Linked DNA regions of Homo sapiens. The protein of the gene in region 5 interacts with the protein of the main gene of each other region in a pairwise test. Each region holds a gene or a part of one and is shown on either strand. Other genes may lie near its edges.

Region 1 (4,125 bases), on a different chromosome or scaffold from region 5:
CTGGCAAAAAACCTTATACATCTTTCAGTTGTCAAGACAAAGTAAAAATATGGTTGCATAAAGTCACAAAAAATATAAACTGCTGAAAAGATAATAAAAAAAGATTAAAAATCATTTGCATTGCCTCCCTTACCTCTTCAATATTAGTAACAATTTGCAAACAACAAAAAAATTGTGAAAATTCTGTTGCAACCTTGACACACTTAACCAAAGGTTGTCATTTCAAATATCCTAGCTTAAAAAAGAATTTACTGCAATTGTCTGTGCATTTATCATACTATTTATAGAAGTGCAATATTTAAATATTTTCAAAATAAAACACAGTAACTAAAATGAATCACAATAACTTATAAGAGAAGCAAAGTTTACAAAATTAACAATTTTTAAAAGGTCCTATTTAATTGGTTCCTCCTTTTCTTCCCCCCTCCCCACAACAGCGTATATAGCGCCATTACTTAATTCCATATACAAATTTGTAACTTTAAAAATACAGTCTTCTGTTAACATCAGGAACATTATGCTGCACTTAGAGACCCTAAGTAAAATTAGAATCCCCTAAAGAGAGGGCCACATAAAAAGTAAATACAGTTTTGAACTCATATTTAAATGGAACTTCTATTACTTTGTACAGCTTTCAAATTAGAAGTTGAATAGAACAAGCCCTGGACAAAAAGCAGCAAGATTTTTCTTTTGAATTCAGTGCATGATTCTAGAAGTGCTTGAGTCAAATCTACTAGAGTCACCATTTATGCAAGCTATCATGACATTTGAGTTCATTATCATCTGGTTACATAAGTGCTCACTGTATTTGCCAAAAATAATCCTAAAATATGATTCTTAAAATAGAAAAAATATAGCTCTGTTGCAATGGGAAAATGATTAATACAAAAAAATCAATTTCTTAAAGTTAACATAAGGCAAATATAAATGATACAATATTATCATACACGATACCAATTTTATCTGAGGTGACTACATCTTCATTTACATCTATTGTGTGATGCAATTAAGAATGACAAAAAAAAATATCAGTGTAAATCAGAAATCTTAGGAAAATCCAGTATCTTTAAAAAGTAATTTAAGCCCAAAACAAATGTGACCACTTATTAATAGAATTGATTTGTTCCATATTTTATCAAAATAATAATAATGTTATATCCAACTAAAGAGTTATAACCAAGTGTCATATGTAAACTTTAATTGGATCCTAGTTTGAAATAATCAGCTATAAAGAAATTTGGAGTTAACTTCAGAAATTTAAATATGGCTTGATTAGATGATATTGGGGAATTATTACTTTTACAATGGTATTACGGATTTTTAGGAGAATGTCATTATCTGTAGGAGATACTTGAAGTATTTTCACGGTGATAAGTATGTCTGTAACATCCAAATGGTTCAGGGGGAAAAAAGCATATATACATACACAAACAAACACATATATGCATATATATGCATAACTAGCTGTATCTATACATATATAGGTATAGAGAAAACAAATGACAAAACATTAACAACTGCTGAATCTAAATGGTAGATATACATGTGCTTACCAAACAGTTTTTCAATTTTTCTGTTTTTAAAAATGTTCATAATAAAATTTGGGGGGGAAGTCATATCAGAGCACTTAAAGTTTGTAAGAGATAGTTTTCTATGCACTGAATCAATTTAAAAGATACATAATCAAATAAGTAGCAATGTGTGCATATACTCAATAATGACTGACATGATGGGCCAGAGGAATTTGTGAAATTGGCAAAAATAATATGATTTATCTACAGTATATGCAACTCAGCTCTTGTAACAAAAAGAACATTTTGTGTACAGAATATCGTGGGAATATTTTAAGACTAAAATTAGTGCTAGAGTATCTGAATATATAAATTCTGTGTTTTTGGACTTGTAAAGCTAAAATGAAATTTAAATTAGGTCTGATATCTGATATGACTTACCATACACTACAGAATTTTAAAAGGGGGATATGGAGGCCGGGTGCGGTGGCTCACGCCTGTAATCCCACCACTTTGGGAAGCTGAGGTGGTGGATCACGCGGTCAGGAGTTCGAGACCAGCCTGGGCAACATAGTGAAACCCCGTCTACACTAAAAATACGAAAAATTAGCCGGGTGTGGTGGCACACGCCTGTAGTTCCAGCTACTCAGGAAGCTGAGGCGGGAGAATCACTTGAACCCGGGAGGTGGAGGTTGCAGTGAGCCGAGACCACACCATTGCACTCCAGCCTGGGTGACAAAGTGACACTGTCTCAAAAAAACAAAGAGGGAGGGATATGGAAGAAGTTATCCAGACTGTTACTACTGCTGGAAGATACTAGCTATTTATGAAGTTAAGGAGCCCAGAAAACAAAATCACCTATAAAGGTCTTGGGAATTCTAGGCAAATATTTATTGAATAAATTTATAACACGTAATATATAACACGTAATAATATATGAAGGCCTTTATGTAAATTAATATTTCAAAGCCCTGTGTACACTAAATATAAAATAGCCAAAAATCAAGTAAGCCTGAGACCTATAATTCACTGTGTATATTATGCTATATACATACTGCACAATGAACAACAAAATGATCTTAATTCATTTCTGCATATTAGGCTTTTAACTATAAATCATGTTCCAATCCCTGTGCAAATTGCATTCCAAAACGCCAGCCCTCGGTTATAATTATGTATAACTTGATTACAAATGGAAGCATTTGGCTGTGACTTATTATGCATGCTTATTGCTGCAAAAGAAATAAGCAAAGTTTTCTGTTTATTGTGCAAGAATTTTAATTAGATTTGCACACATCTCAAAAAATTCTATTGTGTGACTTCCAGGTCTTGGAGTTAGGTCAACAGGAGAAGAGTCAAGTGAGGTCACAGATGAGGTAAGAGAAACTTCTGAGGATTTTCCTTGAGCCTCAGCATCTGAATCACTCCTTTGGCAAGATCGATAGTTGCTAACTGATCCCGATCTCTGTGGAGTAGCAGTCCCTGATTTGGCTTCTGTAATTTCATCTGGGTAAAAAGAATTTCAATTTATTATAGTCTATGACCTTCTCCCAAAAATTTTTGTAACAGTATTGAATTTGCTTCTTTAAGTGGGGCTGCTGGCCAGCTATCAAGAGCACGCTTATTCTAAATACCTTCTAAAACAGTCAATGAGCCTGTATTAAACTATTCATCTTTTTTACATATAGTATGTATTCTCAAGATAGCTAACCAAAGTTGGGTACAGTATAGCTACTCATCAGTTGCAATCCAAGGTTAAGAGCCCAGTAAACCAACAATCTAGGGATTAATAAATATTATTCTATAGCAATAAAAAGTAATCCCTCTATATTAAAATCATAGAATCGATGCACTTAAAATTTGGAGGGTATACTGGAAACCATCTCATCCAGCCCCTCACTTTATTGATAAGAAAACAAACCCAGAGAAATGACTTGCCCAAGGTAACAAATGAACAGAAAGGTAAGTCTAGAACCCAACTCTCCTAAGTCTCAGCTCAGTGCTTTTTACTTTCCACTTTCCCTTCATATTTCATTTAGTATTTCATAAAAGAGCAACAATTCCAATGAATAAAAATCGAAGAAAAACTAAGGTTGGGAACACAGTACAAAAACAAAATGGGCATTCAATTGGTATACCCCAGTACTAGTAAATCTAAGGTTGCAAATTTGATCCAAATACAAGAAAAATAAAACTCATTCCGTATTTCAGACTGCATTAGTATATGTTAGCAGATACGTACTATATGGACCTAAAGATAACCAGACAAACTGGTTTGGCCAACATATCATGGCTCAAACCTGTGTCTTTCTGCTACTATGTGTGTACTATCTTTGAGTTTATAAAGAAGAAAAAAATTCAAACGTGAACCTCATCTAATAATTCTATGCAACCTTCCATAAGCAAAGGTGATACTATATATATATATTTTAATATTTTGTAAAGACAGAGTCTCAGTATGTTGCTAAGGCTGGTCTCAAATTCCTGGGCTCAAGCCATCCTCCCACCTCAGCCTCCCAAAGTGCTGGGCTGTTTACAGGCATAAGCCACCACACCTGCACTCAACAGCGTAGCTTAATGCAATTGAATTGGCCAATGAAGAATTGCCATAACT
Region 2 (4,125 bases), on a different chromosome or scaffold from region 5:
TTCACTGTTGAATATGATGTTACTTGTAGGTTTTCTGTAGATTCCCTTTATCGAGTTGAGGAAATTCTCTTATATTCATAGTGTGTTGAGTGTTTTTTATCATGAAAGGGTGTTGATTTTTTTTTTAAAGATAGGGTCTTGTTCTGTCACCCAGGCTGGAGGGCAGTGGCATGATCATGGCTCACTGCAACCTCGAATTCCTGGGCTCAGGGGATCCTCCTACTTCATCCTCCTGAGTAGGTGAGACTACAGGCATGAGCCACCATGCCCAGCTAATTTTTTAATTTTTCTGTAGAGGTAGGGTCCTGCTTTGCTGCCCAGGCTGGTCTTAAACTCCAGGGCTCAAGCAATCCTGCCTCAGCCTCCCAAAGTGCTGAGATTACAGGGGTGAGTCACTGCACTGCACCCAGCTGTGTGGGATTTTTCAAATGCTTTTTTCCTTTAGATGATCATGTGTGGTTTTTTTCCTTTCATTTTGTTAATGTGGTATATTGATTTTCGTATGTTGAACCATCCTTGAATTCCTCAGATAAAGCACGCATATTCATGGCGTATTATCTCTTTATTATTATTATTTTTGTAGAGATGAGATTTCACTCTGTTGCCCAAGCTGGTCTCAAACTCCTGGGCTAAAGTGATCCTCCTGCCTCAGCCTCCGAAAGCGCTGGGATTATAGGCATGAGCCACTTGGCCCTATCTTTTTTCTTTTTCTTTTTTTTTTTTTTTGAGACAGAGTCTCACTCTGTCGCCGGGCTGGAGTGAGTGGCGCGATCTCGGCTCACTGCAACCTCCATCTCCCGGGTTCAAGCAATTCTCCTGCCTCAGCCTCCTGAGTAGCTGGGACTACAGGTGCCCGCCACTATGCCCAGCTAATTTTTTGTGTTTTTAGTTGAGACGGTGTTTTGCCATGTTGGACAGGCTGGTCTTGCACTCCTGACCTCGTGATTCACCCACCTTGGCCTCCCGAAGTGCTGGGATTACAGGCGTGAGCCACCGCAGCGAGCCTTATCTTTTTAACAGTTAAAAGTTTAAGGCCTTATCATGTAATAACATTGCTGGATTTGATTTGCTGCTGTTTTGTTGAGAATATTTGCATCTGTATTGATAAGGGATATTGGTCTGTAGTTTTCTTTTCTTGGCATGTCTTTGTATAGCTTTGATGCCAGCATAATATTGGCCTCATAGAATGAGTTAGGAAGTATTCTTTATATTATGGGAAGAGGTAAAAAGGGATTGGTGTTAATTCTTCTTCAAATGTTTGATAGAATTCAACAGTGAAGTGATATATACAATCATATATAGAGAGAGAGAGAGAGAGAGAGAGATGGACTTTTCTTTTGTTGGAAGTTTATTGACTATTGATTCAATTTCCTTATTGAAATTGACTTTTCTTTTTGGAAGCTAAAACGTATAACTGTAGTGAAAGTTTCTGAACTTTTCTTTCATTGGAAGTTTTTTGACTACTGATTCTTTATTTGTTATAGGTCTATTCAGATTTTCTGTTTCTTCTTGAGTCAGTTTGGTCTCGCTCTGTCGCCCAGGCTGGAGTGCAGTGGTGCCATCTTGGCTCACTGCAACTTCTACCTCCCGAGTTCAAGTGATTCTCCCACCTCAGCCTCCCCAGTATCTCGGACTACAGGCGCACGCCAGCATACCTGGCTAATTTTTGTATTTTTAGTAGGAACAGCATTTCACCATGTTGGCCAGGCTGGTCTCGAACTCCTGACCTCAGGTGATCCACCCGCCTCGGCCTCACAAAGTGCTGGGACTACAGACATAAGCCACCGCGTCCAGCCTTGAGTCAGTTTAGATAGTTTGCATGCATGTTTCTAGGAATTTGTCCATTTTGTTTATGTTATCTAATCTGTTACCATACAATTGTTCATAGTATCCTTTTATAGCCCTAGTTATTTCTGTAAGATCAGTAGTAATAGCTCCACTTTCTCTCTTGGTTTTAGCAATTTGAGTCATCTCTTTTCTTCCTCTTTTTTTTTTTTTGAGATGGAGTCTCACTGTGTCACCCAGGCTGGAGTGCAGTGGCATGATCTTGGCTCACTGCAACCCCTGCCTCCCAGGTTCAAGCAATTCTGCCTTAGCCTCCTGAGTAGCTGGGATTACAGGTGTGAGCCACCACACCCAGCTAGTTTTGTTTTGTTTTTTTGTTTTTGAGACGGAGTCTGTTTCTGTCTCCCAGGCTGGAGTGCAGTGGTGCAATCTCACTCATTGCAACCTCCGACTCCCAGATTCCAGCAATTCTCCTGCCTCAGCCTCCTGAGTAGCTGGAACTATAGGCGTGCACCACCACGCCTGGCTGATTTTTATATTTTTAGTAGAGATGGGATTTCACCATGTTGGCCAGGCTGGTCTTGGACTCCCTACCTGAGGTGATCCGCCCACCTTGGCCTCCCAAAGTGCTGGGATTATAGGCATGAGCCACCATGCCCAGCCAGTTTTTGTATTTTTAGTAGAGATGGGGTTTCTCCCTGTCGGCCAGGCTGGTCTTGAAATCCTGACCTCAGGTTATCCACCAGCCTTGGCCTCCCAAAGTGCTAGGATTACAGGCATGAGCCACCACGCATGGCCTGTCTTTTCTTCTTGGTCATTTTCGCTAAAGGTTTGTCAATTTTGTTGATCTTTTTTGTTGCTGATCTCTATTGTTTTCCCATTCTGTTTCATTTATTTCCATTTTAACCTTTGTTTCCTTTTTTCTGCTGGTTTGGGTTTAATTTGCTCTTTTTTTCCCCTAATTTTTCAAGGTATACAGTTAAGTTATTGATTTGAGATCTCTTTTTTCTTTTCTTTTTTTTTTTTTTTTTTTTTTTTTGGTTGCTGTTGAGATGGAGTCTCCCTCTGTCACCCAGACTGGAGTGCAGTGGCATGATCTCAGCTCACTGCAGCCTCCGCCGCCCAGGCGATTCTCCTGCCTCAGCCTCCTGAGTAGACGTTTCCCGGCCAAGGTGTTTCTTTTTGAATGTAAGCATTTACAGCTACAGATTTCCCTCTAAACACTGCTTTCACTGCATTCCATAAGATTGTTTTTTGTTGTTGTTTTGTTGTTTGAGACACAGTCTCACTCTGTTGCCGTTTGGAGAGCAGCGATGCGATCATAGCTCTGTAGCCTTGAGCTCCTGGACTCAATCAGTCCTCCTGCCTCAGCCTCCCAAGTAGCTGGGACTACAGGTGTACACCACTGCACCTAACTAATTTCTTTTATAAGTTTTTGCAGAGGCCAGGCACAGTGGCTCACACCTGTAATCCCAGCACTTTGGGAGGCCAAGGTGGGTGGATCACCTAAGGTCAGGAGTTCGAGACCAGCCTGGCCGACAGGGAGAAACCCCATCTCTACTAAAAATACAAAAATTAGCTGGGCGTGGTGGCAGGTGCCTGTAATCCCAGCTACTCAGGAGGCTGAGGCAGGAGAATCGCTTGAACCTGGGAGGCAGAGGTTGCAGTGAGCCAGGATCACACCATTGCACTCCAGCCTGGGTAACAAAAGCAAAACTCCATCTCAAGAAAAGAAAAAAAAAAGTTTTTGCAGAGACAGGGTATCACTTTGTTGCCCAGGCTGGTCTCAAACTCCTGACTTGAAGGAGTCCTACTGCCTCGGCCTCCCAAAGTGCTGAGATTATGGGCAAGAGCCACCGCACCCTGCCACTTGGCTGTTTTGTTCTGTTGTATTTCCATTTTCATTGATCTCAAGACATCCTAATCTCCCTTTTGTTTTTTTGTTCGACTTACTCGTTATTCAAGAGTGTCTTTATTTCTGCATATTTGTAAATTTTCCAAAAAAGTTTTTCTTTCTTTCTTTTTTTTTTGAGAAAGGGTCTTGCTCTGTCGCCCAGGCTGGAGAATGGTGGTGCACAATCTTGCCTCACTGCAACCTCTGCCTCCCGGGTTCAAGTGATCCTCCCACCTCAGCCTTCCCAGTAGCTGGGATTACAGGCACACACCACCACACCTGGCTAATTTTTGTATTTTAGTCTTAACGTGCTGGTCAGACTGGTCTCGAATTCCTGACCTCAGGTGATCTGCCCGCCTTGGCCTCCCAAAGCACTGGGATTACAGGCGTGAAACACCATGCCCAGCCCCCAATTTTTTTTTTTTAATAGAGAGAAGGTCTCACTC
Region 3 (4,125 bases), on a different chromosome or scaffold from region 5:
AAAAAAAGGTGTACCAGCCCAGGGAGACAATGGCCACATTGCAGGTGATGACCACAGCCCAGCCAACCACTGCATCCTGGAGGCTGCCCACCAGTTACCCACATCATCTACCAAGGGACCCCCTTGCTGGAGCACAAACAGCTTCCCTTGGGGGATCCCTCAATCAGCATTTGTCACATACCTGAAAAGGGTGGCCACCACACAGGCCACCAAAGTTATAACTCTCTCCTCTCACTTCCTCCCCATTGGGCACAATAAACCTCATTGCCATTGTGGCTGGAACTTCCCTTCCTGGGCCTCCCAAAGCAATTCTACTGCCTAAGGCTATCTCCGGGCTAACTTGTATGTACACAGAGATAAAGCCACATCCCAGTGGCTGGACCTCATGCAATGTTGGGCCTCCTATCTGCCCCCATGAGCAGGCCACTCCCTTATTTGCACCACAAAACCACCAACACCAAACACTTCTGGTCTAGGCTCCTAGGTCTTGCCCTGTCCTATGTTGGCTCAGATGTTATCCAGTCTGGTCCCCGGCTCATGAGTCCAGATCATACATCTATCCAAATGTATAAATACATGCCTATGCTTGTATCTTCCTAGGCCCACACAGCACAACTAGTGTCATGGCCCACCCCAGATATTAAAGGAACACAAGAGATTGGAAGCCCCAGAGGGAACCTGCTTCACCTGTTCCACTCCTAGATAACTTCTTCCTGACGTCCCAAATACCTAAACTCACCTGCACACTGCTAAGTCTGACAACCCCCTTCACATTTTTCTGACTGTTCTGCAATTTAACCCTGCTGGTCACAGTCCCCAGTCAGAGGTGATGGGCAGTCTTCCTACCCATTGTCCTGGGTATAAGCATGACTTGGGGCCAGAAGAGTGGGACTAAGGTCTTACAATATGATCACACCAGGAAAACTAGCAGATACTTCAGAGAAAGATCCGAGGTCCTATCAGCCCACGTAACACAAAAAACAGCAGCACTGGAAGCTTTCACTGAAGGGCAAAAACCCCTAACTGCCAGGGTGGCAGATAAGAGACTAGCTCCAGATGATATGCCAGCTTCCCAGAAGGAGTATATGCTCTCAGAGGGCATAGTGTATCCTGCTGGACGTGGATAAATATTGCAAGGCAAAGTAATCCAAATAGCCCAATGGATGTACCACCAAACAGAAACCAAATTCTACATGTGGTACTCTGAACTCCCTAGGACTTGGATGTCCCCTGTAGCCTGGGGTGACCTTGTTTTAGGAGCCCTCCTGCCCACAAGTAGACTTACATACTGCACTGGCTATGTAAAATTGGTACAGCCTATATACAAGTATATTAGCTCTTTGGATGGTGAACCAAATGTTAGGGAGTGAATTTTGAAGAAATTGAGTTGAGTGCAAAAAGTTGCTCCCAGCAAAATGTCATTTGTCCAAATAGTTAACACCCACTGGGGCAGAAACCATCAGGGCACCCCACCCCTCACCACCCACTCAGCCCCACTCACCTCTGCAGCACCTAGTAATCATATGCAAGAAAACTCACCCTTACTCTTTTTGATTGACCACCCCCAGCCTGACCCCCAATGGAGCAGATCACTCAAAATTAATCTTCCCCCACTACCTCCTCTCGGCATTATTCAACAGGTGGGCCCCTGTCCTATATCTACGTAGGTCCCCAGCACCAGGCTCTTTCTCCTCCCCAGAAGTCAGGGAGTCCTCTTCTCAGTGGGGCCCTCAACCAGTGGCTTCCCTCGCTGCCTATGCCTGCATAAGTAATACACCTTTGAATTGCCTGTGATCACCGGGTCAGGTGTGGTGCGTTTTGGCATCCAAGGCTTTTAAATGGGAGAGAACAGCAGATCTGGTTCCTTTCACTGGAATATTGTTATGGTCCAATTCTGCAACCAGCTGACTTCATTACTACCTGTGAACTGCACCTCCAGCTCCTCCAACTGACCCCATACCCAGACCCTTACTTGGGCTGTTTCCTACCAGACACACCTGCTCTGTTAAGAAAACCATTATTGAAATCACCGGCTGTTAATTCCTACTCAGTCCTTAGTAGCCCTGTGAGCTGGAGCAAGTTCTGTAGGCTTTCTGTGACTCAGTTTCATCACCCATAAAATTATGATTACAATACTTACTTCATTAGGGTGTTGCAAGGGCCTAAAAAACACTCTATGTATAGCTCAAAGTACAAGCCTGACAACAAAGGAAGTTTCCAGATAATCGCTCATCAAGGGGCAACTCGATTTTCTGCTTCCTCCAGAAAGCCTTCCATGCTGATGTCCATCCACTCTGATCTCTCCCTAATCCAATCTGATTGCAGTTTTGATCAGCACCTCACTGTTGACCATGGATTTCTTCTCCATTACAAATGTGTTCATTTTGACTTCCAAGTAAGAGATAAAGGTCTTGGAAAGAAGTGATTGCATTTTACCTGGCTCTCCTACTGACTTTCTGTGTCATCTTCCTCTTAATTTTGGGGAGACTGAGTTTCTTTCTCTGGGATGGCAAATACATGGCCTATGTGCCAACACTTTCCCATCCTGAAACCTCAGGACACACACCAGTGTTCTCATCTTCTCTCCAGAACCTGGGTCCAGACTCACAATTCTTCTTAACACAATACTTTGGACAGTGTCTACTAACTTATCTAATAAATATGTTTTGAGTACTTCGTAGGTACCATCCCCCTTGGTCAGTTTCTAGAAGTTAAAACGTTGGACATCTTGTATCTGCACTTATGGAACTCATCCCTTAGTGGAGAAGAAAGACAATATGCAAATACACAAATAAGAAAATATCAAGTAGTGACAAATATAATGATGAAAATTAAATAACGGTGTGTTAGTGCCTGGGGAGGAGGCTATTTTTTAGATCAGGTATCCAGGGAAAGGCCTTCTGAGGTTTCTCCCTTGATCTGGGAGATTGGGTGTGGGCCTAAGAATATGTATTCCTAACATGCAAACGTAGGAAATTTGGGAAACACTGGCATAGTGAATGAGGTGAGGGCATAGTCAGAAGACCTAGGTCTAAATTCCGTCTCCTACATTTATGCAGCTGTATGACCCTGGGAAAGTTATTGAAATTTCTCTCTCACTTTCCTCCTCTGTAAAATTGGAATAATATTACTGATCTCAGGAGGTTTCTTATCAGGATTGAATAAGATCAAGTATTTAAAATGCCTGGCACATAATAAGTGCTCAATAAAAGGTAGGCATTGTTTGCCACAATTAGGTCTATCTATTTATAACCGTAATCTTTTGTTTGAATCACTCAAGAGACAAATCCAATAAATGCCGCTAGGTAATACGGTGTCTGCGTGTTGGCTTTTGCCTCATGAAGCTCTTCCTCTTGAAAAATAAATTTTCAAAAGACATTCCTGTGAGCAAGAATGCCCGAGTCTAAGGAACAAGGGTCATCCAGTTCTCTAGTTTAGGCATGTTTGAGATTTGAAAGGGCTTTGGCCTAATTTCCTCTCCTATCAAATGGGCACCAGGCTACCTGCCCTTTTTCACTCATGGGGGATTTCTGAGACTCAGAGGGATAAGAGATTTGCAAAGCGTGAGACACAAACAGTTGCAGATACAGACAGAACACTTGCTTTCTCAGACCGGCAGGTGCATACAATGGCAAGGCCACCTGATACACCAGTCCTGTTCATTTGGAAAAGGGACAACTCCTTCACATTCACAAGCTGGGCTGGTAAGTGAAGAATAAGAAGAAAAAAAAAAGAAGTCGGCAGGAAGCAGCCTCTTCAACCAGCAAAGAAACCGTTAGAATCCATCCCTGCGCCCTGATGCCAAAGTTCCGCCTGCCCCACCCGTCACGCTATCAAGGACACCCGCCTGCTATCAGAAAGCCCTGGGGGTCTTTTTCCCTAGTTTATCAAGGACCTGTGGAAACATTTCTCTAACTGAAGATAAGAATTTTTTTTCTCTCTCTTTCTCCTTTCTACTTCTAGCTGTCTAAACCAGAGGGTTCCTCTCATTTTCTTTCAGTAACAACTGCTCTGAAAAGAAGATATTTTTCAACCTGAACTTGCAGTAGCTAGTGGAGAGGCAGGTAAGGTGGGTTTCATTAATTCATTTGTTCATTCATTCATTTCTTCCATTATTGTATGCTT
Region 4 (4,125 bases), on a different chromosome or scaffold from region 5:
TAAAATAATGTTTTACATTTATATTTTATCTTGCTATTTGTAAGGATTTGTAGCAGAAAGATTTTCAGGTTTTCTTGATTGCTATCTTGCTGAAACAAATACTTTTTATAGAATTATTCTTTTAAAAATCAACTGATGTGGCCAGGCACAGTGACCTGTAATCCCAGCACTGTAAGAGGCTAAAGTGGGAGGATCTCTTCTCAAGCCCAGGATTTCAAGACCAGCCTGGGCAACATATTATAGCAAGACCCTGTCCCTCCAAAAAATTTTTAAATTAGCAGGGCATGGTGTCATGTACCTGTGGACCTATCTACTTGGGAGGCTAAGGCGGAAGTATCCCTTGAGCTTAGGAGTTTGAGGCTGCAGTGAGCTATGATCAGGCCACTGCAGCCCAGCCTAGGGTGACAGAGCGAGACCCTGTCTCTCAAAAAATAAAAATAAATACAAATCAACCGACATACACAAAAAAATTAGATGCCCAATTAGAATACAAACTATTATTAGAATTGCCAGAATTTCTAATATTCATACACCATGTGGATTTGTATAACACATTTATATTTATGTTTTAGGCTAGGGAATATAATTATGTCTATAATGAATCAGGATTAAAAGAGTTCCTGTTATCTCTTGTGACTGAAAAAAAAACAGTGTTTGATTTGGAAAAAAGTATTATCAGTATAATAAAATTAATGCTGGTTTCAAATAATAACTTTCAGGTACTATGGAAAGGGCAATTTTAAACTTTGAGAACAGAAATAAAACCACTCTAAATAGCTAAAGAGAATCGAGGTTTGTGCGGTTACTTTTGTCTTTGTTTTGTTAGTGTTTAGTTTGTTGAATTCTTGGCATTCCATGTAAAATTCAATAGGAATCTCAGTTTAGCAGATACGGAGATTTCTGTTTCCTTTTACTTACAGTGGTTTCTTTTCAGAAACATGTTCTCCTTCCTTCCTGCCAGGAATGAGTAGCGACAGTGACATTGAATGTGACACTGAGAATGAGGAGCAGGAAGAGCATACCAGTGTGGGCGGGTTTCACGACTCCTTCATGGTCATGACACAGCCCCCGGATGAAGGTGCAGCACATGATGTCATTTTACACAGATTACTAAAACCACCGCTGCCGCTTCTCTTTCTTCTTCTTCTGCTGCTGCTACTTCTACTTTTTCCGCTCTACTGCTTTTGCTTCTTCTGCTTCTACTTCTTTTTTTTTTTTTTTAATTATTGTCATTTGTGAGACAACATTCTTTGGTTAACTATTATGGTGAGTACTAAAAAAACACAGCCAGTAATATTTGGCTTGGTTGCACCTAATGAGTGCTACTTACTGGGCAGAGACGGGGTCCACAACCTGCTTTTGTATAGTCTGTGACCTGAGAATGGTTTTTACTTTGTAAAGAGTCTTTAAAAACCAAGCAAAAGAAACAAAGAAGAATTTTCTTTGTGGGTTTTTTTTTTCTTTTTTTTTTTTTTTGCCCCGAGATGGAGTCTTGTTCTGTCACCCAGGATGGAGTGCTGTGGCGTGATCTTGGCTCACTGCAACCTCCGCCTCCTGGGTTCAAGCGATTCTCCTGCCTCAGCCTCCTGAGTAGCTGGGATTACAGGTATACACCACCACGCCTGGCTAATGTTTTTGTATTTTTAGTAGAGATGGAGTTTCACCATGTTGGCCAGGCTGGTCTCGAACTCTTGACCTCGTGATCCACCTGCCTTGGCCTCCCAAAGTCCTGGTATTACAGGCGTGAGCCACCGTGCCCAGCCCAAAGAAGAATTTTCAAGAGAGTCCATTTGTGGCCTACAATGCCTAAATATTTACCCTTCATAGGAAATGATTGCCAATCCCTGGGGAGATTTCAGATGTTTGGGTTTTTTTTCCTTTTCTAGCCTACTGTAAGATAACTTTAACCTTTTAAAATAAAAATAACTTAGAAATACATGCAGATTATGAAATAATTTTTATTCCCTCCTACCCCCAAAAAAGTTATTAGGAAAAAAACAAGAGAAACCTACTATTAATATTTTCCCTTGTTTTCTTCTGTCTTATTTGCATTGCATTTCTTCTTCTTTTTTTTTTAGACAGAGTCTTGCTCTGTCTCCCAAGCTGAAGTGCAGTGGCACAATCTCAGCTCACTGCAACTTCTGCCTCCTGGGTTCAAGCAATTCTCCCACCTCAGCCTCCTGAATAGCTGGGACTACAGGCATGTGCCACCACATCCAGCTAGTTTTTGTAATTTTTAGTAGAGACAGGGTTTCACCATGTTGGCCAGCCTGGTCTCGAACTCCTGACCTCAGGTGATCTGCCCACCTTGGCCTCCCAAAGTACTGGGGTTACAGGTGTGAGCTACCATGCCAGCCCTACCTAAATATTTTATAAATAGTTTTTTATTCTGCTTTTTTCACTTAAATATATTTGTATGTTATTTAAAATTTCATAAACTTCATTTTTTATGGCAACCTAATATTCTATCATGTGGATATACCATAAGTATTCTGCTGTCAAGCAGTTTTCTGGAATACAGATTAATCAGTAAAAGGATATACTGTCAAGTTAGAGAAATACACATTTAAAGTTACCCAGAGGCCTTAATAATCAATCTGAACATTCCTCTGCAAGATATCCTGGAGTGACAACATTGTTAAGCCTATGCCATTTTCTGCTTTATATTTTGCATATTTTCCTGGTGCTCTGGTATCTTTTTCAATACAGAACCAAGCATTTGATGATTTGTAAGTATTAAGGCATCTTTAGTAACTTCCTCTGCTTCTAAAATAAGCATCCAAATTTTGTGCAAGTTATTTGGAGTGCTGGTGGGTTTTTGTAGTGATACTTGAATGCGTAGTTTAATTGGCTTTGAAATATGTTTTATGTTTATAAGGTCTTGAATCTTGAGAATATACACCATTGCTTCTTGTTCCCTTTTTAAGCTGTCCCCAGATTGTCCCCAGGAGGACAAAATGAGACAATTCCTGTCATCTTTTAATTGTGGGTGTCTATTACACATTTTGTTTTTTTCTCCTTTATTTTTCCTTTGTGTTTGCTTATACCTGACTCAGATCACAAATTCTCTGAAGACAGAGATTTGTTCACAACCCAGCACATCTTTATCACTTAAATAACACATTTGGTAAGATTATTTAAAGACTTGGGAAGGAAAATACTGCCCTTGTTATATGCTTTTAAATTTTAAATTTTTTATTTATTTTTTAATCATAGATACACATTCCAGTTTTCCTGATGGTGAACAAATAGGCCCTGAAGATCTCAGCTTCAATACAGATGAAAATAGTGGAAGGTAATTGCCAAATCAAGAGAACTGACTTGCAAGCTACCTTGACCCTGAATTTTGCTGTAGTTGGTGCTCAAATTTGTCATCAGTCAGATAATCAGATTTGGTCTTATTTCTTCATTATCTCGACCTGAAATAGTAATTTGGAAACTGTTGGAAGGTGGCACAGTTTAGTCTAAGACAGCAGTAGTACATGGGAAAAACAGTATGGGAAGAGTTCTTTGTAATGTAAGGAAATAACAATGTAGTTCTCTATTAATTTAGCAAATTTGTACATTCACAAAAGGCAGTTTGTCTACTACAGCAGAAGGCTGGTTAACTGCCAGAAAATGTACCTCCAGGCCCTGCATGCCGTCAGTAACCCGCCCGGCATTGGTGCTCTACTGTCTTTGGCTAGAGCTTAGTTGTGTTTAAATAATCATCTTTATATTTGGGGTTTTAATTACAGTTCCATTAGTGCCTGTAGATTAGTGAACAGAAAATTGCTTTGGAAGAGATTCTGCCCTGTAGACACTATGTGAATAACTGAAGTAACACTAGACTGAATCTCCTTTTTGGAGTATGTATCTTCTCTCACTTGTTCAAGTACAGGCACACTGTTCAACCGCATGGTATCTTTCTGTTGTGTGACTTCTACAAATGTAATTTTAAATGAAATTAAGTTAACATGGATTCATTACGTTCCTGGCCCTGTAGACACGTGTAAGATTATTTAAAATTCTTTCATTTTTTTCTGCCTCTTACTATACGACTGTAGTGCAACAAATATTTTAAAGCCCCCTTTTCTTCTTTATTTTCATTAGTTGTACATTGATTTCAGTGTCAACACATTTAAA
Region 5 (4,125 bases):
TCTAAGATTATAATAATTTACTCTTTTTCCTTTTTACGCCAAATGTTTCCATGTCCACCTGCAGCAGAAGATATTACTACTATCAGGGGCTTTGACTCCTTTGATGAAAATGATGATGTTAATGTTAACAGGACATGGCAAACTTTTTCTGTATAGATCCATATAGTAAACATTTTCAGCTTTATGGGATCTACAACTTATTTGTTGCACCTACTTATCTCTGCCATTGTAACAAGAAAAGTAGCCATAGGCAGTATATAAACAAGTAGATGTGGCTGTGTTCCCATAAAGCTTTATTTACAAAATCAGGCAGCCAGCCTGTGGGCCATTATCAGGCAACCCTGATAATGAAATTAATAATGATAAGGTAACATTTATTAAGTACTTACTGTGCGCCAGATACTGTGTTCACTCTACTGTGTTGGGTGCTTTAATAGTTATTTCTTTGTCTTCTCAACAACTCTTTGGTAGATACTTTTGTTATTCCCAGTGTCCAAGAAGAAACAGGCTAAGCAGTTAAATAATGTGCCGAGATCTCATTGCTTACAAGTGGTGGAACTAGAAACTCGAAAATTAGGCTGTTTAAGCCCAAATCCTAACCTATATACCAGGTTCACTTTCACCACTTACGTGTATAGAATGCATTAGAGTTTTAGATGCTTAAGCATGTATGGTAAGAATTAATTTTATGTGTTCATGTTTGTAGCTATGGACATTTTGAATTATGTCGGGAGAGCTGATGGAAAAAGAGGCTCCTGGAGGACTGGTAAAACTGAAGCCAGGTAAAGTCCAGTTTAAATTGATAAATGTAATCAGACTTCCTTCTATCCTGCATTTTCATACTGACAGTTTCTTTCTCAGGAATGAAGATGAAATGTATAAAATTCTCTTGAATGATTATGAATATCGTCAGAAACAAATCCTAATGGAAAATGCAGAACTTAAGAAGGTTCTTCAACAAATGAAAAAGGAAATGATTTCTCTTCTTTCTCCCCAAAAGAAGAAACCTAGAGAAAGAGTAGATGATAGTACAGGAACTGTAAGTGGCTCTTTCCTCTCTAATACAGTCTTCAGATTGCTAATAAGAATAATTAAAATATGTGGTAGGCATTCTCAATGGGGACACTATTGGTATTTTGAATAGGACACTCAACTGCTATGCTACTTTCAATTACTGTGACAACTGAAAAGACTGTTCCTATGTGTTTTCAGACATTTCCTGAAAAATGCTGGAGATGATTTTCCGGGGAATTAATACATGTCAAGCACTGTTAAGAAGTGCTTTATAAGCATTGTCTCATTTTATAATATTCCTCATAACATATGAGATTATTTCATATATTATAATTTGATGATTTAGATACTATAAATATCCCCATTTTATAGATAAGGAAACTAAGGCATAATATTTAGTAGCCCAGTATCACACATGACAGTGCTAGGATTTGAATCCAAGTTTCTCACTCCAGAGCTCACAATCATAACCACTATGTCAAATATCCTTTCAGTTGTTTTAGTATTATGTACTCTACTTTTCACAGAGTGAAACTTCTGTTAACTTTGGGAAACAAATATAAATTTATTGGGTGTTCTTTATGTTCTAGTCTCTGGAAAGGAAAGGCTAAAAAGATTTTGACTTTTTCCCTCAAGAAGCTCTTTTTGGGAAAGACAGACGTGGAGAAGTGATTATTACATGTGTTAGGTGCTGTAATAAGGTGGTACAATGTGCAGAACAGAATAGTTATGGCAATCAAGGCATCACAGAGAAAGTGACATTTTCACTGCTTCTTAGAAAATAAGTATTTTTGAGGTTAAAAAAAAAAACATGGAGAAAGCATTCCAGAGAATGGGAGTAATATATGCAGAGATCTGAAAAAAAAATCACATAATGGTGAAAAGTTCATTTTACTTAATTGCTTTACGTATAAGTTAAAATCGTAGGTTTCAGCAAGTTCACATTAGTGATAAAAATCTGAAAATAATGTTGATGGAAAATGCTAGTTAACAGCAAGATACCAGAACTTGTTTTTTAAACCTGTATTTGAGGATTATTTATTTTGTGGTATCACAAATCAGTCCAGCTGATAAGCCCATCCCAGCACTTACCTTTTTTTCTCCTTAACATTTAAAAAAAAAAATTACCTAAATTTTTTTTTTTTTTTTTTTTTTAAGAGACGGAGTCTTGCTCTGTTGCCAGGCTGGAGCGCAGTGGCACAATCTCGACTCGCTGCAACCTCTGCCTCCCGAGTTCAAGTGATTCCTCTGCCTCAACCTCCTGAGTAGCTGGGACTATAGGCAGCCGCCACCATGCCCGGCTAATTTTTTTTTTTTTTTTTTTTTTGTATTTTAGTAGAGACGGGGTTTTACCATGTTAGCCAGGATGGTCTCAATCTCCTGACCTCGTGATCCGCCTGCCTCAGCCTCCCAAAGTGCTAGGATTACAGGCGTCAGCCACTGCGTCTGGCCTTTTTGAGAGAGAGTTTTGCTCTTGTTGCCCAGGCTGGAGTCCAGTGGCACCATCTCACCTCACTGCAATCTCTGCCTCTCGGGTTCAAGCAATTCTCCTGCCTCAGCCTCCAGAGTAGCTGGGATTACAGGCATGCACCACCACCCACGGCCAATTTTGTATTTTTAGTAGAGACGGGGTTTCTCCATGTTGGTCAGGCTGGTCTCAAATTCCCGAATATCTTTTACATTCTCCATTTTGAGGCCTGCTTGACCTCTTATATGTAGTTAACCTCTTATCTCAAACTCTGTCACTTCTAGTCAGTTCTTAGCATTCACTAATACTTCTTCAAGGTTAGCATAGTGTCCATTACTACTGCAGCATCTTCAGTTTTTGGTCCAACCTTAACGTCTCATCATCAGATTTCAGTTAGCAAAAGTATGTGGTAAGTCAGGGAGATCTTTCTTCAGTGATTAAACCCTCCTCACCCCCATTACTCAGCCAGTGGGTAGTATCCTGTATAATTCTTCATAATTCACATGTTTAAGTGGATGAACAATGACCTCTTAAATATATATTCTAGTTTTAAAAGATCCATTTTTCTAGCTCCCTTTTCTCTTTAATTTTTGTAGGGAAAGATTTTTGAAGCATTATAGCAAGAGAAATAAGATGTAATGTTGGAATGCCTAGGTAGCATCCACATTTCATTTATTATTTGACCTACTTACTTGTAAAACATATACCGAAAATTCAGGTAAAATGAGTTTGTTGTTTTGTTTTTTGGTTTTTTAGAGGCAGGGTCTTGTTGCCCAGGCTGGTCTCGAACTCCTGGGCTTAAACAGTCATCCCACCTTGGCCTCACAAAGTGTTGGGATTACAGACATGAGCCACTGTGCCCAGCCGAATTTTTTATTTTCATTTTGTGGTTAGAGAGTTCTGTTCAATCTGAGAAATGTGCAATAATTATTCATTTTTCTTTCTTTTTTTTTTTTTTGAGATGGAGTCTCACTCTGTCGCCAGGCTAGAGTGCTGTGGTGACATCTCAGCTCACTGCAACCTCTGCCTCCCGGGTTCAAGTGATTCTCCTGCCTCAGCCTCCTGAGTAGCTGGAAGTACAGGCATGCACCACCACGCCCAACTAATTTTTGTATTTTTAGTAGAGACAGGGTTTCACCATGTTGGACAGGATGGTTTCGATCTCTTGACCTCATGATCCACCCACCTCTGCCTCCCAAAGTGCTGGGATTACATACAGGCATGAGCCACCGCGCCCGGCCAATAATTTTTCTAACAGATTGGTAGTATTCTAATAGGCTTTAAAATGTTCAGAAGAGAAGCTGTGCTTCCTTGGAAGAGTTACTGGCAAGTAGCTTTTGAGTATTGGCAGGGGCTAGAATCACCATGAGCCGGATCCTGGGCCATTCCCCTGTCTGCTCCGCCTCAGAGACCCTGACCTCTGCTAGCCCATTGCTGACCTCAACTACTGATAGAGTTCTTCAGACTCAGTTGCTCCCTCATCCTGCTGATCTCCATGTGCGAGCAGTCGAATCAGCCCTTCTTTCTTTTCATCTTTTATCTTTCTTTTTTCCCCAGCAAGATTTTTATTGTTCAAATTAGTGAAGTATATCTCTCTGCCTTCCTGAATATTAATGACAAATTAGAACTACTTTATGTAGATG
Region 6 (4,125 bases), on a different chromosome or scaffold from region 5:
CATATTGTCCTACAGCTGACCTACTGCCCTGTTACCCACCTGCTTGGCCCCAAAGCCTGTTGAGTTGGCATAATGTATTTCAGAGAAAAGCTCTCAGGTAATCTGTATGGCTTATAAGGGAAACCTGCAGTCCTTTCTGAAAGGGGAGCTGTGAATATGACTGCTTTGTAGAAAGATGTCTTAGGATTCTGGGTGAAAATTTTTAATTCCCCTCATGTAGGAATGTCACAGAGTGTACCTTTTTGACTTAGTATTTTCCTAGTAAAATACACCTTTCTTAAGAAAATGGCTACAAAGTCAGATGCATGTAAATGCTTTCAGCAAGGGTTTGTTGATCATCTGCTTTAGGCTGGGCTCTATGTTAGGTGCCTGTGGATTCCATTCTAGTACCTGTGTTCTCATAGAATTGAATCCTGGTCCCCCATATGACTTTTGATGATATTCACACTGTTAATTCCAATAAAGACAGAGTAGACAAACAGAAACTGTACATGAAAGGAATAGCATGAAGTTGTCGATTTTTAACAAGTATTATAAATAATGAAACGGTCTTTTCACTTTCAGATGAGAATTTTCCCTTTTTTTTTTGGTTCACTAGATAGTAGTTATCCTAATTCAGAAGTTCAACTAATGTAAATATCCATTGATTGAGAAATTTTGTATTTTTGTTGTTTTCAGTTACTTGTTGTAGTTTTCTTTTTGGTGAGTCTTATGATTGGCTTTATTGTAATAGAATGGAACACAAACTTTGAAAAAAAAAAAAAAAGGTCTTGCATTTTTGTCTAGACTATGCAGCTACCCAGTGGATCGCTGCTGAATGGAACAGGAAAGTGACAGATCCTTGGGCCTAATGTATCACTGTGTTGTGGAACTGGTCATTCATTAGAAGAGGTCCCTGTGTATCCTTTCTATCAGGTCCTTCTCATATAAATCTTGCTGCCTTTGTTGCATCTGTTAGACAAATCAGTTCGTTGCATTGAGGACACTTGAATATTTTACAGTTTTTTTTTTTTTTTTGGCAAATCTTGAAGCTTGTGACTATCTGAAACTCTTTTAATACCTTTTGAAGGATCAGAGCCCTGCGTACCCCAGGAATGCACACCGTTTTTTTGAAAGTGTGCTCTTTCCTTTTGTTCCTAATCAGTAATTATAGCCCCCTAATGGTACCTCTGGAGCAGATGCAGAAGTCAAAGATGCAGAAGGAGGAATTAGCTAGTCAGACACAGGCTCGCAGCAGTGGTGGGGCTGAACACAATAGCACAGGGACTAATGCAGTTGCTGCTGGAAGCAGTTTATTCCTATCACCAACCCTCTCCATTCCTTGTATGTATTTCCATTAAATCCATAAATGGGGTGCTCCTCCTCCTTTAAACCATTTATGTTAAAAGAAGCTTCTGGGCCAGCAGGGCTGTTTGAATTTTGTAGAATGGTGAGAAGGCCAAAAGAAAAAGACTGAAATTGACACACTGTCCCTCTTAGTGCCTCTGCAGGGACTGAACTCAGTGGCTATTATGTAGCTACAACATAGGCACACTTTCATAAGTATTGTCTGTGTTTCTCTAGTCTGGGTGTTTTCCTTGCGTATTAGTTCTGAGTGCTAAACAACAACAAAAGGTGTCTTTGAAAAGATAAGGTGGCAAACATTGTTTAACATACCTCCTTGAGAAAAGTTTCAATATTTTCCCCAAGAATGATGTCAGAGTTAGGCTTTGCTAGTGCTGCACTACGTGTGGCTGGTAAAAAAATTGTTAGTGGAACTCTACTTCTGTAAGTGTTGTTCTTGTTTGTCCCTTGCAGTGATTTTATTAGATGGTGGGAAAGTGTTTGTATTAACCCTTCAGCATCACTGAACTTGGGGTATCCCATTTCTGTATTTATGTTACACTTCCTTTGATTGAACCATTATTTTCTAATTATTTTTAATCAAGAAGCATTAAAATAAGGATGAAAGTAAATAGATTAAGGATTACCAGTTTCCTAAATGGAACCTGACTAAATGTAAAATTAAGTCAACACACCCACACAGAGAATTCCACGAAGCTAAGTAGCTTTTGAATACACAACTCTGTATATGCTAGTGCAGTGGTCAAAGTGTGAGATGGAGGACCTGAGACCCTTTCACGGGTCCATGAGGGCGAATGTAATGTCATAATAATACTAAGATTATTTGCCCTTTTTGCTGTGTTGATATTTGCACTGATTGTGCAAAAGCCAAAGTGGAGAAAACTGCTGATCTTTAGCATGAATCCAGGTGGTAGCAACAAACTGTATTAGTAGTCATTGCATTCACCTCCATGCACTCAATTTAAAAAGAAAATGTCAGTTTCACATAAGAATGTTCTGATGAAACAGTAAAAATTATTAAGTCTCAACTGTTAAGGACATCTTTTTAATATACTGCATGATGAAATGGGAAGTACATGTGAAACATTTTTGCATAACCATGTACAATGATCATCTGGTTAGCTGAAGGAAAAGATCCTGTGTATAGTGAGACTATGTTCCAGGGCTAGAAAGAACTGCAAAGAAATCTTGAACTGCACTGTTTGTTGTTGGTAGTATATTGGTGGCGTCAGTTTGGCGCTATTTTGTGTTTATTGTAGATAGAGCACCACATGGATAAGTATATTAAAAATTTTGGGAATCGAGGGTTTTCCTTGTGGTGGAACGGCGATGCTAATGTGAGATGAGGGAGAGATGAGGGAGCAGAGGAAGAAGCCTCCGTGTTGGATTTGAATTCAGGGTGTCACCATGAACTTGTGATTTACCTATTTAAAATATCCTTGCTCTGTCCAAAGAGCCTACAAGCAGTGATACTTAATTAACCGAGATGCATTGTGTTCTCCGAGCTTGGTTTTTAAATGCCATTTCCCAGTGAAAGGTTTCAGGGCTCCTTGGAGAAATGGCTGATTTGAGGTCTGGGACAGGAAACATACAAGGTTAGCTTGCCATGCTTGTGTCAGAAAGCAAGGAGGTGTTGAAAGACCCTTAGTGCCATGTCAGAAAGACAGAGGATGACTTTCCAAGAAGCTCCCAATGGCCAAATTTGGGACAGTCAGCATTATGAGAGTATGGATTATAACACATTTAATAATAATTTTTAGAAATCCATGGATATACATGGTAGAAGAAAAGGGGGAGAGTGAGAGAAAGACTATATTATACAAGAATGCCAGCTACTTTGTGAAGGAGAGAGAAAATCTGAAAATTTCTCTTTTGCAGTCCCTAATGTAATAATTCATTCAAGGGTGCCCTGGCTCATGCCTGTAATCCCAGCACTTTGGGAGGCTGAGGTGAGAGGATCACTTGAGGCAAGGAATTTGAGACCAGCCTGGGTAACATAGACCCTGTCTTTATTAAAATAAAAAATATAAAAAAAAAGAATTGTCAATGGACGCTGAAACTGTTGAGCAAGATGTTATCAGGGAGGCTATTCACAGAATCTCAAGTCTCACTCTGCATATTCCTTATTAGTGACAAAGGAGAAAGGGTGTTTTTTGTTGTTGTTATTGTTTTTTGTTTTGTTTTGTTTTAAAAGCGAAGAACAAATCAGGCTGATTCCACCTTAACTTATTGACCAAACAGCAACATCACTAAAAAAAGAGACAGCCAGACCTTATGTGCTTTCCAAAGGAAGAACATAGCACTTCCTAAAAAGTAGTCTTGGCAAAAGCAAGCCAACTAGAAGTAAAGCCTCCGGATTCAACTCCCAAATTGTAAACCCAAATGAGTCTGTTAAACACCACCTTGGGGATGCAAAAAAAATAAAACTTCAGACTTGGACAGACTCCACAGTCAAGTGACCCAGCTTCTTCAAAAATAAACTGCAAGAGAAAAGAGATAAAGGAGTGATGAGAAGGGATTTAAGAGCCATGTTGATCAGTGTGAACCTTATTTGGATCATGATGCAGATAAACTAAGTTTTTAAAAAATGAGGCAGAAGAACTGTGAATACAGACTGCACATTTGATGATGATACAGAGTGACATGATACTATGTCTACAGTTGCCTCACAATAATTTAGAAGAAGGGGAGTTGGGTCGGGATCCAGGGGAAGCACAGTTAGCCTTGGGCAGATAATTACGGGGAGGATCAATGTGTGCTCATTACAATATCTTCCCATCT
Region 7 (4,125 bases), on a different chromosome or scaffold from region 5:
CTGGACATATTTTATAAAAATTATTGTGTGCCAGAAATTCAAATTTAACTGGGCATCCTGTATTTTCATTAGTTAAATCTGGCACCCCATCCTTGCCTGGGAATAGCACCTCATTTTTATCTTTCTCGTACCACAATTATTTCATGTCCTTCTCACACAACAATTATTTGTTTACTAGACCCTGAGCACCTTGAAGGCAGGGATTATGTTTATTTTCCTCTGAATCTCTACATCTGTACACAATGCCTAGAACAAATGTTTTTGAATCAAATAGAACAATTCTCAGGCGACATCTGCAAAGTCTGGTTGAGGCCAGCAGCCCTCTCTTTGGCCTCAAGTTAACAAATGTTCTGTGCTTAGAGGAAGAGTCCCATAGTGAGTTCTATAATCTCACGATCATCTTAACAGGGCCTCATCCAGAACCTACCATAGAAAAAAAAATCTGTCTGAGAAATAACGCACACAATACCTTGCAGATATCACTCCATTGCCCAGGACCATTATCATTGATGGCTCTAACTTTAAACACGTATTCTGTGTTGGGGGTCAGGTTGTGCAGCTCCAGATTTTGCTGCATTATGTCCCGAATTTGTCCACAGAGCTCCATTTGTACGTTGTTAGGAGGAGAAGTAATGACTTCATAGAATTCCATCTCAAAAGAGTCCACGTCTTCTGCTGGACATGTCCAGTAAACCTATGGAAGAAATGAACATACTGGTGTGGTACTAGTATACATCATTCAGCTTTCTTTCCCTTAAAGATTTGTGATGTTGACTATCTGTGGGGTGAGTTTAAGCTGACCCCATCCCCTGTAGCTACCGAAGACTTTTAATTAGACCATGCACAAGTCTTGGAAGACTGTGTGATGAGGCCTGGCATGATGGTTGTAATGAGTTTCACAAACAGAAGGTTTCCGTTCTGTTACTGTCAGTCGACATGGAGGTGACAATTGTCCTCCTGCTTGAAAAATACCGAAAAATAGAGGGGAAGAAAATAAACATCACTCATAATATCACAATTCAGTTAATTCATTATTATTTCTTTGCAATTTCAGAACACACACACACATACAAACATATATATATATATATATATATATATATATATATATATATATATATATATATATACATAAAAACTTGGATTAAGTAGCTTTGATTTCTATTTTCTTTTACTTATGTTGTATGTTTTCCTAAATCATTAAAAATTCAGTAAACTACCATCTTTGAAATTTCTCCCAAAATAATTTAATCCTTCTATTGTTGAACATTTATGTTGTTTCTAATTTTATACTCTAATAAATAAATGCTGTAATAAATACTGTTGGGCATAAATATTTGTCTGAATTTTTAATAATTTTCTTGGAAGAGATTCCTAGAACTAAAACTGAGTTTAAAAAATCTCTATGATATTAACAATACATATTGAAAAGGTACAACACTAAGTTTCAGAATATTTTCTATGCTAAAATCCTAAAGATTTGAGAGTGATGTTAACATAAACTTAATCTTCTGCATTGCTAAGCACTATGATTCCTGTATGAAGTCCATTCCATTATCCTAAAATATGAATCGATGATATTTTAAAATCAAATATCACTGTCTGGCAGTAGGTTTAGGTGTCCTCTTTCGACAGCAAATGACTTGACTGAGTTGTTTTGCGTAGGTCTCTTTTTTGAGCTCATCAGGGATGACTAATAGGTGGCATGGGGTGACTATTTTCCATGCCCAGGTATAGAGCAGATACTAGCAATCCTCTGACTCCAGAGCAAGATCCTGCCAACTTCTCAAGAGGTCTCAGTTGGTCAAGGAGATGAGACCCAGTGCTATACTTGAGGTAATAAGCATACACGATAGGCCTTGCTGATCTAGTATCAATTGGAAATGTAGTTCAGCTGCTCAGTTATGGGCATTGCTTATGTGAAGGGCAGAAACACTTCATCATGTCGATAGCTCATGGAGTGTTCTAACTTGCAAAGTATGGGTTGTTCTTTGTGTTAATTATAGACAATAAAACATAGATTGTGATGCGTCAGGAGAATGGAAAAGTAAATCTTGGTCTGTATCTGGCCTTCATTTGTTAGATCCTTAATACTAAAGTGTAGTCTGTAGACAGCAGCATTGGCAGTACCTGGAAGTTTGTGAGAACCAGAATCTCAGGCCCCTTTGAAACCTACTAAAATAGAATCTGCATTTTAACAAGATCCCCAGGTGCACATCAATGTTTGAGAACTCAAGGATCTGAAAGTCTTTGGGAGTGTTCTCAGATTATGGGAGACAAAATATGAGCTCTGCCACATGGGAGCAGGCCATGGGTTGACTGTAGGAAAAATCCAAGAGGAGGAAAGAGGCACTCTAATAGAATATTTAGTTGCATGTTAATTTTTTTCCTCCATAAACCTTAATAAAGTGTTCTACAAACAATTCCGTGTGGGTTCAGCTAGATTTGAAAGGTATGTTAAAGAAAAGCCCATTTGTTCATGTTGTCCATGTTAGGTCAAGAGGGTCAAAGGGAAGTCATGTCCCTTGAGGCCAGGCAATGGCACTTACAGAGGTCTGTGACAGACCCCACTCTTCACTCTCTCCCTTCAAGGCGGGTTGAATCTCAGAAGAGTTGAAATTTCATTGGGGATGATCCTCCCAATTTTTCCAAATCATAGAGATTCTGGATATTTGCTTTAGGAAAGGCAGCAATTTAACGGAAACAGCTGATAGGTAATGGAGCCTGCATTTCTAAGTACAATTTCTGTGCTGTCTCTATTACAGGCTTTCCTTTGGGAAACATTACACTGCCAAGTAGTGTCTTCAAATTACTTTGGTTCCCAAATTGGGTTCTCTTTCAGTTGAGAAGCTGCCTTTGCAGTGGAGGTAGGGCTTTCAGATATATTTACGATTATGAGTTAAATATATTGACTGTTTGGTTTAAGCTAATTTTGGGTTACTTAAGATTCCAGGAGCTTATCCCTTTTGAATGGGATGACCACAAAGAGTCTAGAGGAGCAGATATGAGTGACCAGATCCTAGAGGTCAAAGAGGTAAGTGCAACCTTTCCTGACTACTCACTTCTACTCTGTGCCCCACACCCTCCCACTTCCCCACTGGGCCCAGAACCTTTCTTACCTTGGCAGCTCTTGGGTACACCAGAGTCTGGTAGATAACAATTGGGCCTGGGGTCTTCACAGAGCCATCGTTGAATGAGTACCAGTTGTGGAAGCTGCTGCTGTTCTGTACAGACTGGCTGTCTGCTCCAGCACTCCAGTAGGTGTAGAGGCCGTCTGTGGGTTTGGCGGGGGTGGCTGACTGGGCTCTCCCACAGGCCTCCAGACCCACCTTGGCCTTCTTGTCAGTGTTGCTGAAGGACAACATGGAGGAGCTTCGCTGGTATATGTGCTGGTTGCCGAGGCTGTGGGTGCTGAAAGTGACCTTCCTGGCAATCATTGTTTCTGAGTGCACGGGGTAGGGGGAGGGCAGGGAGTCCCCTGAGGAGCGTACCTTCTTGGGCCCTGTGGGGAAGAGCTCATGGATGGCACTGGAAAGCTCAACAAAGTCCAAGGGCACGTAGTTTATTGAGTGCAGCCGGAGCTGTGGGTCAGGCCTGTAGGTGGTCTGGATGCCGTCCTCGATCTGGTCCACCAGGATCTTGGCTGACTGCAGGAATGCCACCTGGCCAGTCTCCTTCAGGGCTTCCTTGGAGTAGGCGATCAGACCATCCATCTCGTTCACTTTCATGGTTGTAACATACACATATTTTTCAATTTCCTTCTGCCTGGACACTTCTAGATTCTCTATCTGCTCCATGATGATCTTCTCTTTCTCCTGAAGAATGCTGCGCAACTTGAGAAAGCCATTTCTGATCTCTTTTCGCTTTGCCTCCTTGTCAGCTTTAAAGCTGTTTTTTAAGATGTTGAATTCCATTAGGTCATTATCAATTTCATATCGGACTGCAAAAATGCCAAGTTAGTTACTTTTAAAATTTTCATCTCCCCAGGTGTCAAAGTCAGTAGCAAACTAGAACAAATTACCCTAGGCTCCAAGGAGGTGAATGAAGAGGGAGGGAAGGCACTTGTAGTTGGGCTGAAACAGGCTGGAATAGGTTTATGAAATGAATTTGGTCCTCCTTAGTACA

Evidence for each region.
Region 1: the proteins of SSX2IP (region 5) and PRKAA1 interact in binary tests that used the Homo sapiens proteins (3 or more experiments, as listed by UniProt).
Region 2: the proteins of SSX2IP (region 5) and ZGPAT interact in binary tests that used the Homo sapiens proteins (3 or more experiments, as listed by UniProt).
Region 3: the proteins of SSX2IP (region 5) and LMO2 interact in binary tests that used the Homo sapiens proteins (3 or more experiments, as listed by UniProt).
Region 4: the proteins of SSX2IP (region 5) and TRIM37 interact in binary tests that used the Homo sapiens proteins (3 or more experiments, as listed by UniProt).
Region 6: the proteins of SSX2IP (region 5) and CDCA7L interact in binary tests that used the Homo sapiens proteins (3 or more experiments, as listed by UniProt).
Region 7: the proteins of SSX2IP (region 5) and TRIM42 interact in binary tests that used the Homo sapiens proteins (3 or more experiments, as listed by UniProt).

Annotation. Positions count from the first base shown.
Region 1 is NC_000005.10:40,760,006-40,764,130, forward strand, and holds part of PRKAA1 (5'-AMP-activated protein kinase catalytic subunit alpha-1), read right to left. Parts: exon of another isoform or gene 3,018-4,125; coding exon 2,773-3,017; 3' UTR 1-2,772. UniProt on the Homo sapiens protein: Catalytic subunit of AMP-activated protein kinase (AMPK), an energy sensor protein kinase that plays a key role in regulating cellular energy metabolism.
Region 2 is NC_000020.11:63,714,534-63,718,658, forward strand, and holds part of ZGPAT (zinc finger CCCH-type with G patch domain-containing protein), read left to right. Parts: intron 1-4,125. UniProt on the Homo sapiens protein: Transcription repressor that specifically binds the 5'-GGAG[GA]A[GA]A-3' consensus sequence. Represses transcription by recruiting the chromatin multiprotein complex NuRD to target promoters.
Region 3 is NC_000011.10:33,881,763-33,885,887, reverse strand, and holds part of LMO2 (rhombotin-2), read left to right. Parts: intron 1-3,611; exon of another isoform or gene 3,612-3,704; intron 3,705-3,948; exon of another isoform or gene 3,949-4,000; 5' UTR 4,001-4,064; exon of another isoform or gene 4,065-4,069; intron 4,070-4,125. UniProt on the Homo sapiens protein: Acts with TAL1/SCL to regulate red blood cell development. Also acts with LDB1 to maintain erythroid precursors in an immature state.
Region 4 is NC_000017.11:58,998,551-59,002,675, reverse strand, and holds part of TRIM37 (E3 ubiquitin-protein ligase TRIM37), read left to right. Parts: intron 1-920; exon of another isoform or gene 921-934; coding exon of another isoform or gene 935-961; coding exon 962-1,078; intron 1,079-3,216; coding exon 3,217-3,299; 3' UTR 3,300-4,125. UniProt on the Homo sapiens protein: E3 ubiquitin-protein ligase required to prevent centriole reduplication. Probably acts by ubiquitinating positive regulators of centriole reduplication.
Region 5 is NC_000001.11:84,659,112-84,663,236, reverse strand, and holds part of SSX2IP (afadin- and alpha-actinin-binding protein), read left to right. Parts: intron 1-706; coding exon 707-782; intron 783-861; coding exon 862-1,039; intron 1,040-4,125. UniProt on the Homo sapiens protein: Belongs to an adhesion system, which plays a role in the organization of homotypic, interneuronal and heterotypic cell-cell adherens junctions (AJs).
Region 6 is NC_000007.14:21,918,235-21,922,359, reverse strand, and holds part of CDCA7L (cell division cycle-associated 7-like protein), read left to right. Parts: intron 1-4,125. UniProt on the Homo sapiens protein: Plays a role in transcriptional regulation as a repressor that inhibits monoamine oxidase A (MAOA) activity and gene expression by binding to the promoter.
Region 7 is NC_000003.12:140,687,537-140,691,661, reverse strand, and holds part of TRIM42 (tripartite motif-containing protein 42), read right to left. Parts: intron 3,941-4,125; coding exon 3,120-3,940; intron 695-3,119; coding exon 470-694; intron 1-469.